2 separate regions of the Homo sapiens genome follow, and region 1 is linked to region 2. Evidence: fine-mapped expression QTL. A gene starts in region 2. The other region holds a variant in brackets. All regions are shown on one strand. Distances are from middle to middle. Region 1 overlaps MRAS (muscle RAS oncogene homolog). Region 2 holds the start of MRAS (muscle RAS oncogene homolog).

Region 1 (8,334 bases), 32 kb after region 2:
TTAAAGTATTAATATTATGGCATGTAGATTGTATCTCAATTTTAAAAAGCACCGTCCTCCAAGGGTTTGTCTGCAGCCCTGGGACTTTGAACAATTTGAACAGGTACCAAGCACCTTCCCATCTTGGGACTTTGCATTTTGTCTTCTCTCTGCCTAGAACATTGTTCCTGCAGAAACACTGATTTCATTTAGGTCTCAGCTCAAATGTCACTTTATCTAAGAGGTCTTCCCTGACCAAACCATTGACACTAGTATCCACCCCACCCCAGTCATTTCTATGCCCAACTCTGTTCTTCTTTATTCTGCCTTTTATGGTTGGACATATTTTATCTTTGTTTGTGTTTTTGTCTCTGCTGACTAAAATATAAATGTCTGAGAGCAGGGACTTTATTTACTGACTGCATTATTCCTAGCATCTAGAATACTGCTTGGCTCATAGTAGCTCCCCAGTAAACATTTGTGGAATGACCAAATGAAAGAATAAACCTTGAACAATATATGTGTAGTGAAAGGTTTGATGTGCTAGCTATATTATTTTTTTCTAACTCACATTACAATAATAAGTATATATAACTATTAAAATTAAAACTTACATCTGTGCACTTTCTAAAATCATTTCATGCATCACCTATTGGAATATATGGCACACTTTGGGATATACTGAGTTAAATAAATGTAAACAAGTTTCTTCACTGCAGGACTTACAAGAACTTTTAACATGCAAACACATATTAGAGGTGTAGTGATAGGATACATTGTCCTTAGAGCTTCCCACAGGGGTCATTTTTTGCACGTGATTCTGAACTATGTTCCATAGAGAACATTCTGAAACACATTGCATAATGCATGTAAGAAAGTAACACCATGCCTGGTACATCGTTGGAACTCAATCAGTATTTCTCTCTACAGCCATATAAACTTCTCTGACTTTTTCCTGAGTACCTTTGGATGTTAAATTGGTTTCTGAGGAAAAATGTTTTCCTCAAGATTGAATGTTTTCCTCAACATTTATAGCAGGAGCAGCAGGGAGAGGGGAAACATGGCCGCAGCATTATATTAGAAGTGTGCATTTGCAAAGCCTGTGTTCTGAATGCCTGGGCTCTCCATGGCATTACTTTAGAAGAATGAGTTTGTTAAGCTTCTAATTCTGCCACCAGAGTCAGGCCCGATTTAGGGCATTGCCCACCCAGGCCTTCCTCGGGAATAGACACCAGATTCCCAGATTAGATGCTTCTCCACTCCATTAGATCTGCTATTAAGAAAAGGAAGACTTGGCCGGGTGCGGTGGCTCACGCCTGTAATCCCACCACTTTGTGAGGCCGAGGTGGGTGGATCACGAGGTCAGGAGTTTGAGACCAGCCTGACCAACATAGTGAAACCCCGCTTCTACTAAAAATACAAAAAAAATTAGCCAGGCCTGGTGGCGCCTGTCATCTCAGCTACTCGGGAGCCTGAGGCAGGAGAATTGCCTGAACCCAGGAGGCGGAGGTTGCAGTGAGTAACTCTGAACCTTTCTGGGGCTGAACTTTTCTGGAGTGGTCTGCACCCCTCAGATGGCCAGGACTTCCCTGGGCATCTGGATCCCAGGGGTCCTGCTCCCCTGAGGCCATGCCATCTTCGGGGAGGTGCTAAGCCTGGAGGTGCCCTCAGTTGCCCTGTACCCCACTGAACTCCAGGGGATCTCAACTCTGCAGTTTCTCTTCTTCCAAACTCAGAAAGAATAAAAACGTGGCAGCACGATGATGAGGAGAAGGAAGAGAATGATAATTTTGATGACGGGGTATTGAATGGGCAGAAACTGTGTGGAAGGCCCGTGCTAAGCACATTGCATTTGCTGTCTTTGAATCCTTACAAATGCTATCGTGGTAGTTGCTGTTGTTATTTCTGTTTTATAGTTGAAGAAAATACAGCAAAAGTTTCACACAACCAGCAACAGTTTGAGCTACCTGTTGACTCCTACCCACTGTCAGTCTGGTTGTGTAGGAAAATCCTCCCCCACAGCACAGTGGATCCTTGTGCCTCTGGGAAGGGGAGCTGAAGTCCCAGGAAGAAGTGGGTGTGGCTGAACTATCATACCTCTTCTGCCCTTCTTACTCCTCACCCAGGGTCCTTCAGAGAACCAGGTGCTCCGGTTGTGATCTCAGTCTCACGTCAGAGATTTGCAAGCTGCTTAAGGAAGCCTTCTCTGTGACTTCCACACTGATTATTCTCACAGGCTGCCTGCTTTCTTGCAAACCTGTTTCTTGTTTTCTTCCAGGAAGTCACATTGCCTGTGTCCTCCCAGAACCTAAGAGACAAGAGCTGGCTGGCCTCAGGGGCCAGCAGCCAGGCTCTCCTGTGGCTGTGGGACCCCCAGGCTTTGGAGCAAGCCTGCTCTGAGTTCTTTCCTGCAAGGGTTCGGGATCCTCATCTCACTTTATATTGTCAAGGGCCCAACCCTCGGAGCCTCTCTTCCTCCCCGTCTGGTCCCTGCTTCTCCACTGTGGGGTTTGCTTCGGCTGTCCCATCTCCATGCTCTCAGCCCTCTCCTCCTGTCTCTGACTTTGGAACACCACCTCACCTTGGCTTTCAGCTGTGTGACTGCCCTCACCCCAATTCTCTCTTGTCATGAATCAGGAAGCCCCAAACCTTCGGCAGAGCCATAGAGTTTTGTGTTTGTTTGTTTTATTGTGATAAAGTGTACATAACATAAAAGTTACCATCTTAACCATCTCTAAGTGCATAGTGCATTCACTTTGTTCTACAACCATCCCTGCCATTCATCTCCAGAACCTTTTCACCTTCCTCAACTGAAACTCTGTACCTATTAAACACTGACTCCCCATTCTCCCCTCTCCTCAGTCCCTGGCAACCACTATTCTGCTTGCTCCCTTTTCTTTTATTGATATCATATTCATACATATTTTGAGGGCATGGTAATGATCAAATCCAGGTAATTAGCATATCCATCACCTCAAACATTCTTTCTTTGTATTGGGAACATTACAATTCTTCTCTTCTAGCTATTTTGAAATTTGCAATGAATTATTGTTAACTATAATTTCCCTACTGTGCTATCAAATACTAGAACTTATTCCTTCTCTTTGTATTTCTGTACCCATTAACCAACTTCTCTTCATCCCCCCACCCACACACCCTTCCCAGCCTTTGATGTCAATCATTCCACTCTCTACCTCCATGAAATCCACTGTTTTAGCTCCCACATATCAGTGAGAGCATGCAATATTTGTCTTTCTGTGCCTGGCTTGTTTCACTTAACATAATGACCTCCAGTTCCATCCATGTTGCTGCAAATGACAGAATGTCTTTTTTTTTTTTTTTTTTTTTTTTGAGACGGAGTCTCACACTTGTTGGGCAGACTAGAGTTCAGTGGCACGATCACTGCAACCTCCCCCTCCCGGGTTCAAGCAATTCTCCTGCCTAAGCCTCCCAAGTAGCTGAAATTACAGGCACCTGCCAACACGCTCGGCTAATTTTTGTATTTTTAGTAGAGATGGGGTTTCACCATCTTGGCTAGGTTGGTCTCGAACTCCTGACCTCAGGTGATCTGCCCACCTCGGCCTCCCAAAGTGCTGGCATTACAGGCATGAGCCACTGCGCCCAGCCTCATTCTTTGTTATGGATGAATAATATTCTATTGTGTATATATGCTACATTTTCTTTATCATTCATTCATTGAAAGGCACTTAGGTTGCTTCCTTACTCTTGGCTATTGTGACTAGCGCTATGATAAACATGGGAGTGCAGGTATCACTTCAATATACTGATTTCCTTTCCTTTGAGTGTATACTCAGCAGTAGGATTGCTGGACCATATGGTAGCTCTATTTTTAGTTTTTTGAGGGATCTCCATACCATTTTCCATAGTGGCTATACTAGTTTATATTCCCACCAGCAGTATCCAAACATTCTCTTTTCTCCACATCTTCCCTAGCATTTGTTATTTTTTGTCTTTTTGATAATAGCCATTGTAACTGGGGTGAGATGTTATCTCATTGTAGTTTTGATTTGCATTTCATTGTAGTTTTGATTTGCATTTCTCTGATGATTAGCGATGTTGATAATTTTTTCATATACCTGCTATCCATTTGTTTGTCTCTGAGAAATGCCTATTCAGGTCTTTTGCCCTTTAAATCAGAATTTTATTTTATTTTGCTAATGAGTTGTTTGAGTTTCTTATATATTCAGGTTATTAATCCCTTGCCCCTTAAACACTAAGTCCCCATTTTCCCCTCTCCTCAGTCCTTGGCAACCACCATTCTACTTTCTTTTTTTTTTCTGAAATGAGGTCTCACTCTGTCACCCAGGCCGGAATGCAGTGGTGCGATCTCGGTTCACTGCAACCTCCGCTTTCTGAGTTCAAGTGATTATCCTGCCTCACCCTCCTGAGGAGCTGGGATTACAGGCG[T/C]GCACCACCACGCCTGGCTAATTTTTGTATTTTTAGTAGGGATGGGGTTTCCGTGTTGGCCAGGCTGATCTCGAACTCCTGGCCTCAGGTGATCCACCCACCTCGGCCTCCTAAAGTGCTGGGATTATAGGCGTGAGCCACCGCGCCCGGCTTCTACTTTCTGTCTCTATGTATTTAACTAATCTAGATACCTCATTTGAGTGCTATGATAAGTGGAATAATATTTGTCCTTTTATGTGGCTGGCTTATTTTAATTAGTACAATCTATTCAAGGTTCATCCATGTTGCTGCATGTTCTGAATTTCTTTCCTTTTTTTTTCTTTTTTTTTTGAGACGGTGTCTCGCTCTGTCGCCAGGCTGGAGTGCAGTGGTGTGATCTCGGCTCACTGCAGCCTCCGCCTCCCGGGTTCAAGTGATTCTCCTGCCTCAGTCTTCCGAGTAGCTGGGACTATAGGCACGTGCCACCACACCCAGCTAATTTTTGTATTTTTAGTAGAGACTGGTAGCATTTTCACCATGCTGGCCAGCATGGTCTCAATCTCTTGACCTCGTGATCCACCCGCCTCGGCCTCCCAAAGTGTTGGGTTTACAGGCATGAGCCGCCACGCCCGGCCTTCTCTCCGTTTTAAAGCTGAATGATATTCCACTGTATGGATGTACCATGTTTTCATTATCTGTTCATCTGTGGATGGACACTTGGGTGGTTTCCACCTTTTTGCTGTTATGAATAACGCTGCTATGAGCATGGTATATAAATATCTGAGTCCCTGCTTTCCTTCTTTCGTCTTAGAGTTCTTGTGTGCCTATTTTTTCTGTTGGTTAGGGATGGAAGGCTGCTAAGCCCCTCACTTTACAATTGTGGAAACTGAGGTACAGATGGAGAGGTCACTAGTCTAGGGTGAGACCTAGCTAGCTGGAGAGCCAGGTTTTGGGCTTCTTGACTCTGCCGAGCGTGTCCTCCACCCTGTCCCACTACCTCCTGCTTTGGCCCAGGCCTTGGGCCTTTAAGGTGGGATGCTGACCAAATCCTCTCCTCACTTACAACAGGGCAGATGTCTCTGGGCCTCCCCACCCTCTGGCTCCCAGCCCCGCCCTCTGCCCAGCCAGCCTCTGGAACTTTGCATCTTTCTTCCATCGGTGGAGAACAGCAGTGGGCCCTGAGTCTCCAGACACTGCTTCCTACCTTGGGGTTCTTGGGCCCAGCTCCGCAACCTCTCTGTCTCCGACTCCCCAGCAAGTGCCCAGTGTTTTCAAAGAGCAAAAGCCTGGCTCTTCTCCTGCACCATCAGAAGCTGGGACATTTCCACCCTGGCTTCTGCCCAAACCTCAGACACAAGTGCTGTTGTCTTCTCAGAGGGGCCTGAACCTGGCTTTTCCCCCACACACTTGAATCCACATTCTTTCTGGGGACGAGGAGGAGAGGAGGACATTTGAAGGGCAGGGAGAGGAAAAGGAACGTTTACTGAGTTTTTTTTTCCTGAACCAGGGGCTTTACCAGGGGGCTTTATGCTCAGCAGGCCTTAGGCCAGCTTCAGAGTGGGCACTCTCCATAGGCCCCAACTAAGAATGGGGTGCAGGCAGAGCTGGCCTGTCACCCACCAAGGGGAAGCTGCCCTTCCCCTGCCAGCAGTGATGTGGGAGGAATTTCCCTCTTTCCCTTCATAGGGAAGCATGGCTGCTGGCCTGAGATTATGCAATCCAGCCCTGCAGGCCTGGGCCTGACCCTTTGTCCCTGCTGCATCAGCCATGCTGCTGAAATGCCTCACTGATCTCCATGGTGCCCAGGGCAGTGCTCTCTGGTAGAAAGCCCTTCCTCACATTGCTGACACATCTCTTCCCAAATCCTCTCTTGCTGTCTGTCCTCAGAGCGGTGGTAGCAGTTACTACCAACCAGACTTTTCTTGAAGGCCTCATGCTAAGGGCTTTTACAAGGATGCCTTATTTCATCCTTGTGACAATTCTGTGAAATTGAGATTAGTCAAGTGAGAGTAAATCACTTTCCAGGTGAGCGCAGCTGCTCTGCAGCCAGTGTACCTCAGTACTGCTGTACTAGTTGGTAAAATAGTGAAGTACTCTCTACCACTGGAAAATTGCTGCTGCTGCTGCCCTGCACCCGAGGGGCCCTTCCCAGACCCACTAGCCAGGCTGGGAGCTGAAGGACCCCTCTCCAGCCACTGACCTAGAGTCAGCTCAGTGAGGCTTGGACTCAGTGATGAAGGTGTGAGTGGAATATGCAACTCCCTACACCCAACTCTTAGCACAGCCTGGGCTCGTTCCAGATTTGTCAGCATCCCAAAATCCAAGTGTTTTTCCACTTTCCTTGCTGACAATCAGGTCATATATGCCAGTTAATGTGGGGTTTTGCCTGAGTTTCAGAACTTCATGTTGGTCCCTGTTAGAAGTCATGTGACCAGTTTGGGCCAAGCACACCAGCCTGACCAATAGATCTGAGACCTCCCCTGTCTGCCATTGTGTTGGGTGATGCCACCTTCCCTGGGCCTCAGTGTTGCCTCTATCAGCCTGTGCTCCCCACACCCTGGCTCCGGTGACTGGGGCTCCTCCTCCCTTTGGGCTGCCTCTGGACAAAGACCTTGCACCCTCATCAGTGGGATCTGTATCCAAATGAGATACACCTCATAGTTGTTGCAAAGGATAAATGAAAAAAATACAAATTGTGAGTTCCTTGAGGAAAAGGACTGTGCCCACCATTGTATCTCTGATGTCAGCCCAGACTTGGCATCTATTAGGTGTTTAATTATTGTTTATTGAGTGAGGGGGGAAACAAGTCACCTTGCAAGGGCTTGGCACATAGCAGACCTCAGTAGATGCTATTGTTGCAGTGATTGCTTTAATGTGATATATATTATTGTTGTTTTTATTGTTATTTTTAGACACAGGGTCTCACCGTGCCACCCAGGCTAGAGTGCAGTGGCATGATCATAGCTTACTGCAGCCTTGAACTCCTGGGTTTAAGTGATCCGCCCACCTTGGCCTCCTAAAGCACTAGGATTACAGATGTGAGCCACTGTGTCTGGTTTATATTATTTATGAGGTGGCTTGATGGTTTCAAGAATAGGTCCCATCACCTGTATGGATGAGGGGCCACTGACACATGTCCCTGTGTCTAGGGAGGTTCAGGAGTGAGGCTTGAGCCCCTGACTTAGGGATATACCTCTCCGCCCAGAGTTGTGTGAATTGAACCCTGAGTCCTATGTACCTGGATATGTTCACTAATTCCTTCTGCAAATAATTGCTAATGTACCCATCTCTCTTTTGGGCTCTGAGGACATAGCAATTGGCAAATCAAAGCCCCTGCTCTCATGAAGCTTATATTTTAGTGGGGTGAGGGGACAGAGCATAAACAAATATGTATGGTGTCAGGTGGTGATAAGTGCTGTGATGAAGGTCAGACAAGGTAAGGGAGTCACAGTGGGGAAGTGGTTACGGTCTTGTGTTGGCTGGTCAAGGAGGGCTTTCCTGATAAGGGAATGTTGGAGCAGATACCTAAAAGAGAAAGCTGCACCTGTATCTGGAAGAGAATCTCAGTCAGTGGGAGTATCAGGTGCAAGGGCCCCGAGGCAGGGGTGTGCCTGGCCTGTGTGGGGAATAGCTAGGAAGCCAGCGTGTGGAACAAGTGAGAGCACAGCTAGTAGGAGAGAGGTCAGGCAGGTAGCTGGAAGGGATTGATCTCACAGGGTTTTGTAGGTAAATGAGAAGCCATTGGAGGATTTTGAGCAGAGGAAGGACATGATCTAACATGTTTAAAACGTGGATACTTCTCAGTTCCTTATCCTGCTGCGCTCCTGGCCTGGCGAGTGAGAAGAGCTCACTCTGGCTCTGGTGTGAACGGAACACAGAGGAACCATGGCAGAATCGGAAAGACCAGTTAAGAAGCTCCTGATGATGGGCTTGGGCATTGGTGGAGGA
Region 2 (8,334 bases):
TTGGGAGGTTTTTTGTTTGTTTGTTTGTTTGTTTGTTTTTGAGACAGAGTTTCACCCTTGTTGCCCAGGCTGGAGTGCAATGGTGCGATCTCGGCCCACTGCAACCTCCACCTTCTGGGTTCAAGTGATTCTCCTGCCTCAGCCTCCCAAGTAGATGGCATTACAGGCATGCGCCACCATGTTTGGCTAATTTTGTGTTTTTAGTAGAGGTGGGGTTTCACCATGTTGGTCAGGCTGGTCTCAAACTCCTGACCTGAGGTGATCCACCTGACTCGGCCTCCCAAAGTGCTGGGATTACAGATGTGAGCCACCGCGTCTGGCCTGAAGCTGGGAGTTCTAGAGGAAGGCTGGGCCACAATGACCTGGTTGACTTCCAGCCCCAAGGTCCCAAGCCCCCACGTTTGCTGCTGAACTAGGCACCAGTTTGGATTGGCTCTGAGGCATGGCACTCAGCAAGCCTCAGGGCAGAGAGGCAAGTGTAGGACATGTTGCAGTGGATGAAGTATGTTTGTTTTGTCCTGCTCTGGGTCAGTTCAGTGGCTCTGACTTTAGCCAGAAATTGGCTCCTGGCCCTGTGTCTGACCTTGGACCTCTGTGGATTAAATTTGGGCCTGAGCCTTGCCTGGGTTTTTGGCTAGGTGTCTGGCCTTCTGCCATGCCTCAAACACACCTGATCAGCCAGGCACATCTGCCAGAGACTTTGGAAAGACTTCTGCTCAATCATCCTTCAGCATATAAGGTTTTCTCCTTCCCTTCTCAGCCTAGCTAATTTTTGTTTTTTGAGATGGAGTTTCACTCTGTCCCCCAGGCTGGAGTGCAGTGGCAGGATCTCAGCTCACTGCAACTTTCGCCTCCCGGGTTCAAGCAATTCTCCTGCCTCAGCCTCTCTAGTAGCTGGGACTACAGGCACCCGCCACCACACCTGGCTAATTTTTGTTTTTTTTTTAGTAGAGACGGGGTTTCACCATATTGGCCAGGTTGGTCTTGAACTCCTGACCTTGTGATCTGCCTGCCTTGGCCTCTCAAAGTGCTGGGATTACAGGCATGAGCCACCACACCCGGCCCTAGCTAATTGTTATTTGTCCTTCCAGATGTGGCTCAGTCATCAGCTCTCACAGAAGTCCTTCCCTTGGCACTTGCCTCCTCGCCATATTGGATTAGGTGCCCTTCCTCTGGTCTTCCACAGTCCCTGTGCTTCTCTGTTCCACACCACTTGCTCCTCAGTTGGCACTCAGCTTGCTTGAAGGCAGGTCTCTGCCCCAGTGCCCGGTACTCAGTAGATGCTCTGGCAGTGTTTACTGGATGAATGAAGCTTTTCTGCTCAGTGGCTCTGTTCTCTAAGCCCCCATTTGCCAGCAACTGAGCCACAACTTGTATTTCAAGGTTCAAAGAGCAGAGGAGGCAGCTCAAATGGAACAGCCCATCCGCAATCGCAATCTGCAAGATTTACTCTCACCATTAGGCAATCTTAGGTAGGTCAAGCACAGTGTCTCACACTTGTAATCCCAGCACTTTGGGAGACCCAGATAGGTGGATTGCTTGAGTCCCAGGAGTTCGAGATCAGCCTCGGGAACATCTCTACAAAAAGTACAAGAAGTAGCCAGGCATGGTGGTGCACACCTATAGTCCCAGCTACTCAGGATGCTGAGGTAAGAAGATGTCTTGAGTCCGGGAGGTCGAGGCTGCAGTGAGCTATGATGCTATGATCATGCGACTGCATTATAGCCTGGGTGACAGAGCGAGACTCTGTCTCAAAAAAAAAAAAAAAAAAAAAAAAAAAAAAGGAGAATCCCAGGTACCTGGGTATGACTATTAGCTGTTTAAGTTCCATTTCTGAGAAGAGGTATTATTACAGATATGTGTATAAAAGCAGTATAAAGACATCTCTTTGACTCTTGCATAGATGTTGGCTCAGCTCAAGCTGAGGGCATGGTCAGGGTCTTGTGCCAGTCAGGGCCCAAGAGAGGACATCTCTTACATGGGGAGCCCACGAGGGGCTGACAGGCCACCAGGATGTACAGATCCCTGCCCGCCTTCCCAAGTTCTGTGGTAAATAGAGGGGGTTGAGGGAGTCAGGTTCCAGGGCAAACCTAGACAGTCGAGGTAAACTACTGTCCCTCAAGCCTTCTCCCCAACCAGGTCTTTTACTCCCTACTGCCAAGGAGAGATACTCTTGATGGCACCCAACCTGCTGTCCCCTTCCTGGGGGACACTTGGGGTCTACAGGGTCTTTGGAGCAGCAGGTGGGAGTGGAGGCACAGGGGGTGCACAGCAGCTCCCACCAAATGGCTGCATGGGTGGCTGGGATGCCAAAGGAAGCCTGCATGGGATTAAGAGCCTCAGCATGGCAGGCAGAGCCAGCAGCACTGTGAGGCTCCCTTAGGCCTGGGGCAAACCTGAGAAGGGAGTGGGTTCCCTGGACATGTAAAGCTGGTTCTAAGTCATTGAGGTCCACCCAGAAAAAGAATGTCCTCAGAAATGATGCTGACAATCAAAACCACAATGAAATGCCATTTCGCCCCCAATAGGATGACTAGAATAAAAAAAGACACACAATTACAAGTGTTTGCAAAGATGTGGAGATATTGGAACCCTCATATGTTGTTGGTGGGAATGTAAAATGGTGCAGCTGCTTTGGAAAACAGTTTGGCAGTTCCCCCAAAAGTTAAACATGGAGTTAACATATGATCCAGGAATTCCACTCTTAGGTATATACCCAAGAGAAAGAAAAGCATATGTTCATACAAAGACTTGTACATGAATATTCATAGCAGCTTTATTCACAGTAGCCCCAAAGCAGAAAACTAAATATCCATCAAGTGATGCAGGGATAAACAAAACGTATAGACATACAGTGAAATATTACTCAGTCATGAAAAGGAATGAAGTACTGCTACATGTTACAACATGAATAGATCATTAAACATTGGTTACTGAAAGAAGCTAGTCATAGTCACAAAAGGCCACATGTTGTATGATTCCGTTTATAGAAAATGTCCTGAATAGGGAAATCCATAGAGATTGAAAGTAGATTAGTGGTTCCCAGAGGCGGAGGAAAGGGGTGAATGAGGAGTGACTGCTAACGGGTAGTTCTTTTTGTGAGGGGCAGGGGAGGGGAGTGGGAAGTGGTGAAAATGTTCTGGAATTAGCTCATGGTGATGGTTGCAAAACTTTGTGAATATGCTAAACACCACTGAATCGTACACTTTTTTTTTTTTGAGACAGCGTCTCACTCTGTTGCCCAGGCTAGAGTGCAGTAGCGCAATCTCGGCTCACTACAACCTCTGCCTCCCGGGTTCACGTGATTCTCCTGCCTCAGCCTCCCGAGTAGATGAGATCACAGGCACGTGCCGCCATGCCGGGTTGACTTTTGTATTTTTAGTAGAGACGGGGTTTCACCATGTTGCCTAGGCTGGTCTTGAACTCCTGACCTCAGGCGATTCACCCGCCTCGGCCTCCCAAAGTGTTAGGATTACAGGCGTGAGCCACCGCGCCCGGCTTGAATTGTACACTTCAAAAGGTGGAATTTTATGGTGTTGAATTATATCTTTATTTTTTTAACGGGGGGAAAATGACGCCGCTGGAGAGGAGTTAGCGGAACTGAAACAATGAAATGGTGCGCGAGTGTCGCCTGTCCCCGTCGCATCCATCCCAACGAAGTTTGGGCCCTGGAACGGTGCACCCAGAAGGCCTGCGGGGAGAGACGCTGGGGCATGATCTGGAAGAAAGACGTCTCAGGATTCGAAGGGAATGCAGCTAAGGTGGCGGCGGAGGTTCGCCTAGGACTGGGGAGGCGTCCCTAGGCTCAGAAGTTGGCCCGGCCGGAGCGGAGATTTAAAGGTTGGAGCGCAGAGGCTCTTAAAGAGGCCGAGTCGAATTCCCACTCGGCGTCCACCTTAAAGCCAGCTCCCCGGCACCACGGATCTGACCCGGGTAAGTGCTGGGCCGCGGGAGAGGCTGCGGCGCCGACCCCAGCCCCTGGCGCTCTAGCGCGCCCTGCCGGGCCCAGGGGACTCGGCGCGGGTGGGCTGGACTTCGTAGGCGCGCGTCCTGGGGGCCGGGGTGCACGCGGGGGCGACAGGGTCGAGGCACCCGGCCCGGGCTCCCCACTGGCGCGCCCGCAGCGGCGCTCTATTTTTAGCAGGCGCTGTGGCAATATAAGGAATGCGCGGCGCGCTAGGCGCTCGGGGCGCACGCTGGCGGCGCGGTCGCTTTAAGGAGGCGCCGGGGCGGGGACGGACCGGAGTGGCCGGCTGGCGGGGAGCCGTCAGTCCGGCGGCCGCGGGGCCCGGCGGGCGCGACGCTGCCTCCTCACCGGCGCAGGCTAGGAGGGGGCGGCCTGAGTGCCGTAGCCGAGCCGGGGCTGGAGCGCGCGGTGAGTGGTCGGGCGGCCTTGGAGGGGAGGGGGCCCGGCCGCGCCGCCTCTCGCCCCGGCCGTCGCTTTGTTCCGGGGCGGGAGGTGTGGCCGCCCTCCGGGCTCGGCCGCGCTCTCCGCTTGCGGGGTGCGCCCTGGGACCGGCTGTGCGTGGCGTTTTGCCCCCATCGCGGGCTCCCGCGTAACGGTGTGCGTTCGTGAAATCGGCCACGACCAAGACCCCAGTGGGGAGGGCCTGCGCGCCGCTCAGAGAGACCCTTTCATGGTAATTACAGTTCCTTGGCTGCCTGGGCGAGAACCCGGTGGATAGATGGGCGGCAGGACGGGGCGGCGGGGGATGGGTGGGTGGGTGGGGGACTCTTTACCCCCCCGCCTTAAGATGGCGTTAACGAGGGGAGGGATCCGCCAGGGAGTTGACAAATTCATCTGAATAATAAAACGCAGCCTGCTTCATAAACAACCCTTCACTGCCCCCGGAGGTTTGGGGAGCTGGAGCTGTGGTCACAACTAGGGCCTGGGCTCATGCATTGAACTGATCTGGCTGAGGCATCAGACACGGTGCCAGTCCTGCCCTGCGGGGAAGACAAGAGCACAAAGTGACAAGCCAGTGTGGTAAGTGCTGAGATTCGGTAAGCCCAGGGGTTGTGGGAGCCCCTAGGGGTCCCTACTGCAGAGTGGGAGGTGAGAGAAGGCCGCCTAGAGGAGTTAATGTCTGGCTGGCCGCAGCGTATACACTGGACACCCAGTTAGACTCTGGCTAGAGCTGAGGTCTGTTCTGGCCTGGGGCAAAGTGGAGTCTGGAGAGGTGGACAGAGTCCATCAAGGCCACTGGGGCCTTGATCATAGAGCTCTGCCATTGCCCCTACTCCCCAATGGCCCCTGATGGTGTGGAACCTCCCTGGCCTTGCTCCTCTAGGACTCACTCTGTCCTGGACCTGACCAGAGAGGGTGGCTGACAAGGCTCGGAATCGTGGCCTCCAGAGGTTTGTCTGGCAGCAGAAGTAAGATGGAGATATGACTTTAAGAGCTCTGAAACTCCACTGTAATAACAGCAACCAACAGGGCTTCCAAAGACCAGGCACTTGAAGTGGATTTGCTCATCATTTGACAAGACACCTCTTGACAAGACACCTCCAGAAGGATTTTGTTTATTGTAAAGGATGGAGGAACTGGGGTGAAAAAGAGCCAACAGCTTGCCCAAGATCATATCTGAAGTCCATGCTTTTGGCCACGTGGCTGTCCTGGGCTTCGGAAGGCTCTGGTGCAGCCTGTGTTAGAGTTTTGTAATATATTGTTTTATAATTATTCACTATAGACATTCACTGGTGGGTTGAAGTGTGAGGCAGTGAGCTGTGGGTATTAATAACTGACTCGTGTCAGAAGCTTAGCAGTGAACAAAGCACTTTCTCGGATACGGTTCTTAGAGCTTCTCCTGCTTCTTTTCCCGGGGAAGAAACTTGAGCTGCTAACATTTTGTAAACCTCCTAATTTCCTGTAAATCACATGTCCCTGCTGAGTGGGGCTGAAAATGTTTCGGGCAATGGTTTTCACCCTTAGGTCTGTTCACACTGCCCAGCAGCCAGTTAGCTTCTCTCTGTAGTTTATGGTGTAGTTTGTCCTTTTTCTGCCGGGGTGGGAGGCATGGGGCTTTCATGCTCTGGGGTTTTTGAGGTCTGCCAGCCTCTGGGGAGGGAGGTGTTGGGCAAGCCTCGTGCTCTGGTGGAAACTGACCCCCTAGATGTGACCTCGGCATTTCCTAAAGCTGGGGGCGGGACTGGGGTAGGCGGTAGTCAAGGCCCTTTGGTGAAGCAAGCGATTGTCTCCAGCGTTGTCAGCTTCGCTCCTCCATAAGACAGTTGCTAATTTCCACCTCTGTTTTCACCTACATAAGACACTTTATGACAGGTTTAACTTTTATGTTATTATTAGCTCTAGCCACTGGTATTTCATACTCAGTTCGTCTGAGCTACTTATAAAGTGACAAGTCCAGCCAGGGCAACATGGTGAAACTCCGTCTCTACAAAAATTAGCTGGGCCTGGTGGCATGCACCTGTAGTCTTAGCTACTTGGGAGGCTGAGGTGGGAGGATTGCTTAAGCCCAGAAGGCAGAGGTTGGAGTGAGCCATGATCACGCCACTGCACTCCAGCTTGGGTGACAGAGCAAGACCCTGTCTCAAAAAAAAAAAAAAAAAAAAAAGTGACAAGTCAGTTACCCTTGGGGTTGGTTTGGTTCCTAAGCTCTAGTGATCACCTGGAACCAGGAATGACTATTGGCCTCTGATAAATTAGGCTCCTGGGATGACTGGTCCTAACCTCAGTCAGAATCACATGTTGACCAGCCTCCTGGATCTAGTGAGTTCTCAGGGAAATGTGGCTTCCATAATATATTTCACATCAGATTTAACCATTGTAATCTGTTCTGCCAATGAAATGCCCCCAAACAGAGTGTGTCTCCCTGAAAGCAATTGAAAAACATACCTGCTCATGAGCATTGTGTAGTTTGTACAAGCATACTCATGTGAACTGAATGGGAATGCATTCTTGTGCAATGCTGGAATGTTCTTAAGTGTCCAGAGGATGTGCATTGAGTTCCAGAGGCTCTGTACCTGCCAGGCCCTGGGCAGGCATAGAAGGTACAGTCACCTTTATCTGGAGACAGGTAAAAAAGGAGCTGGAGGAGTTCCCTGAGACCTGGGACACCTGGCAGGTACCCATTGTCTAGGGACTCAGCAGAGAATTCAAGCTTTAAGAGGAATTTTCTTGCTGGACTCTGAGTCCCTGTCAGCCCTCCTAAGTCTTAGATCATGCCTCTGAGCCCTGTAGTACTGAATCAATGGGGATGCTTTGGCTGCAAGTAACAAAACCCAAATAACAGTAAGTAAGATTAAGCAGAGCTCAGATCTCCCAAAGATGCTCTCTGCTCTTGGAAGGTCTCTGTACACAGGAATGGGATATCAGTGCCACTTCCAGCAAGTTCCTGCATGGGACAGGTAGCCATAAAGGCTGAGTGTCTGGAGTTCAGAGTAATAGGTTTTGTCTTCTTGAGTCACAGCCTCTTTAATATGTTGATGAGAAGCCCAGGGAACGTTGATGTACAAAGTTGGACATATAATTCAGGGGATTCATGGATCTCTGAAAACCAGCCCTGGATCCCAGTTTAGCCATCTCTGATCTAAAGGCACGTGACTTCTCTAATGTTCATGGCAGACCTATTCTGTAAGCCCATTGTGCAGCCAAGTCAGCATGCCATTCCAGTGCAGTGTGAGAGGGCAGAGATGGGGGCCAAGAGTACAAATAGAGTGGGACAGTTGTCATTGCCCAGCCTGTGAGTTGAAGTCTGTGCAGTCAGCCAGTGGGTCTGACAAAGAGGGCAGTGCTGGCACTGCCTCATGCTTCCGCAGAGGTGATGAGGTTCAGGCTGAGGTGGAGACCACGCTGCACTCGCCATGCATTCAATGGTGCCCCATCTCTTGTTCTCTAGGAAGCATTCCCGCTACCTGTGTGATGCAGTTGGTTCCACCTATTCCCAGAGACTCCACCCTGGCCCTCCTTGCCCTGGCCCCCAGCACTGAGCCCCTAGGGCCATTTAGCTGGCCAGCATGATCTAAGACAGCTTTCTGCAGGCATTCCTCTTGTAGGAGTCATGAAGCAGCAATGTGTATTTTGCTTCTTTTTGTTGTTGTTATATTAAAAAATATTTTTATATTCTAGTCCAATCCTTATTATTTGATTTTTTTGGTTATATGTTATATATAAAAATGTATTTTTTGTATTTTGCTTCTTAATGTCCCTATCATTGTCTTTAATATTCTTGGTAGCTTCACTAGGTGGGGACTGCTGCATGACAATGTGGGTCATCACCGGTTGCTGAAGTGACCTTCTGAGTCTCAGAGGGGTATAGTCCTCGCATCAGGCTACCTTGACGGATAAAACAATATGATTTACATATGGGTTGTAGT

The links. PIP is the estimated chance that this variant, and not a neighbour inherited with it, causes the effect.
Region 1: its variant is fine-mapped to the expression of MRAS in whole blood (TOPMed, PIP 0.98).

What each region holds. Positions count from the first base shown.
Region 1 is chr3:138,376,052-138,384,385 of GRCh38, forward strand. The region is part of intron 2 of MRAS (muscle RAS oncogene homolog); the gene reads left to right. Among named protein-coding and RNA genes, the nearest start is that of MRAS, 32 kb to the left of the region's middle. The variant T/C (reference allele first, on the strand shown) is at 4,408.
Region 2 is chr3:138,344,393-138,352,726 of GRCh38, forward strand. MRAS (muscle RAS oncogene homolog) reads left to right here and starts at 4,187. Exons shown (of 6, transcript NM_001085049.3): 1 at 4,187-4,375. RefSeq lists an enhancer at 3,699-4,654.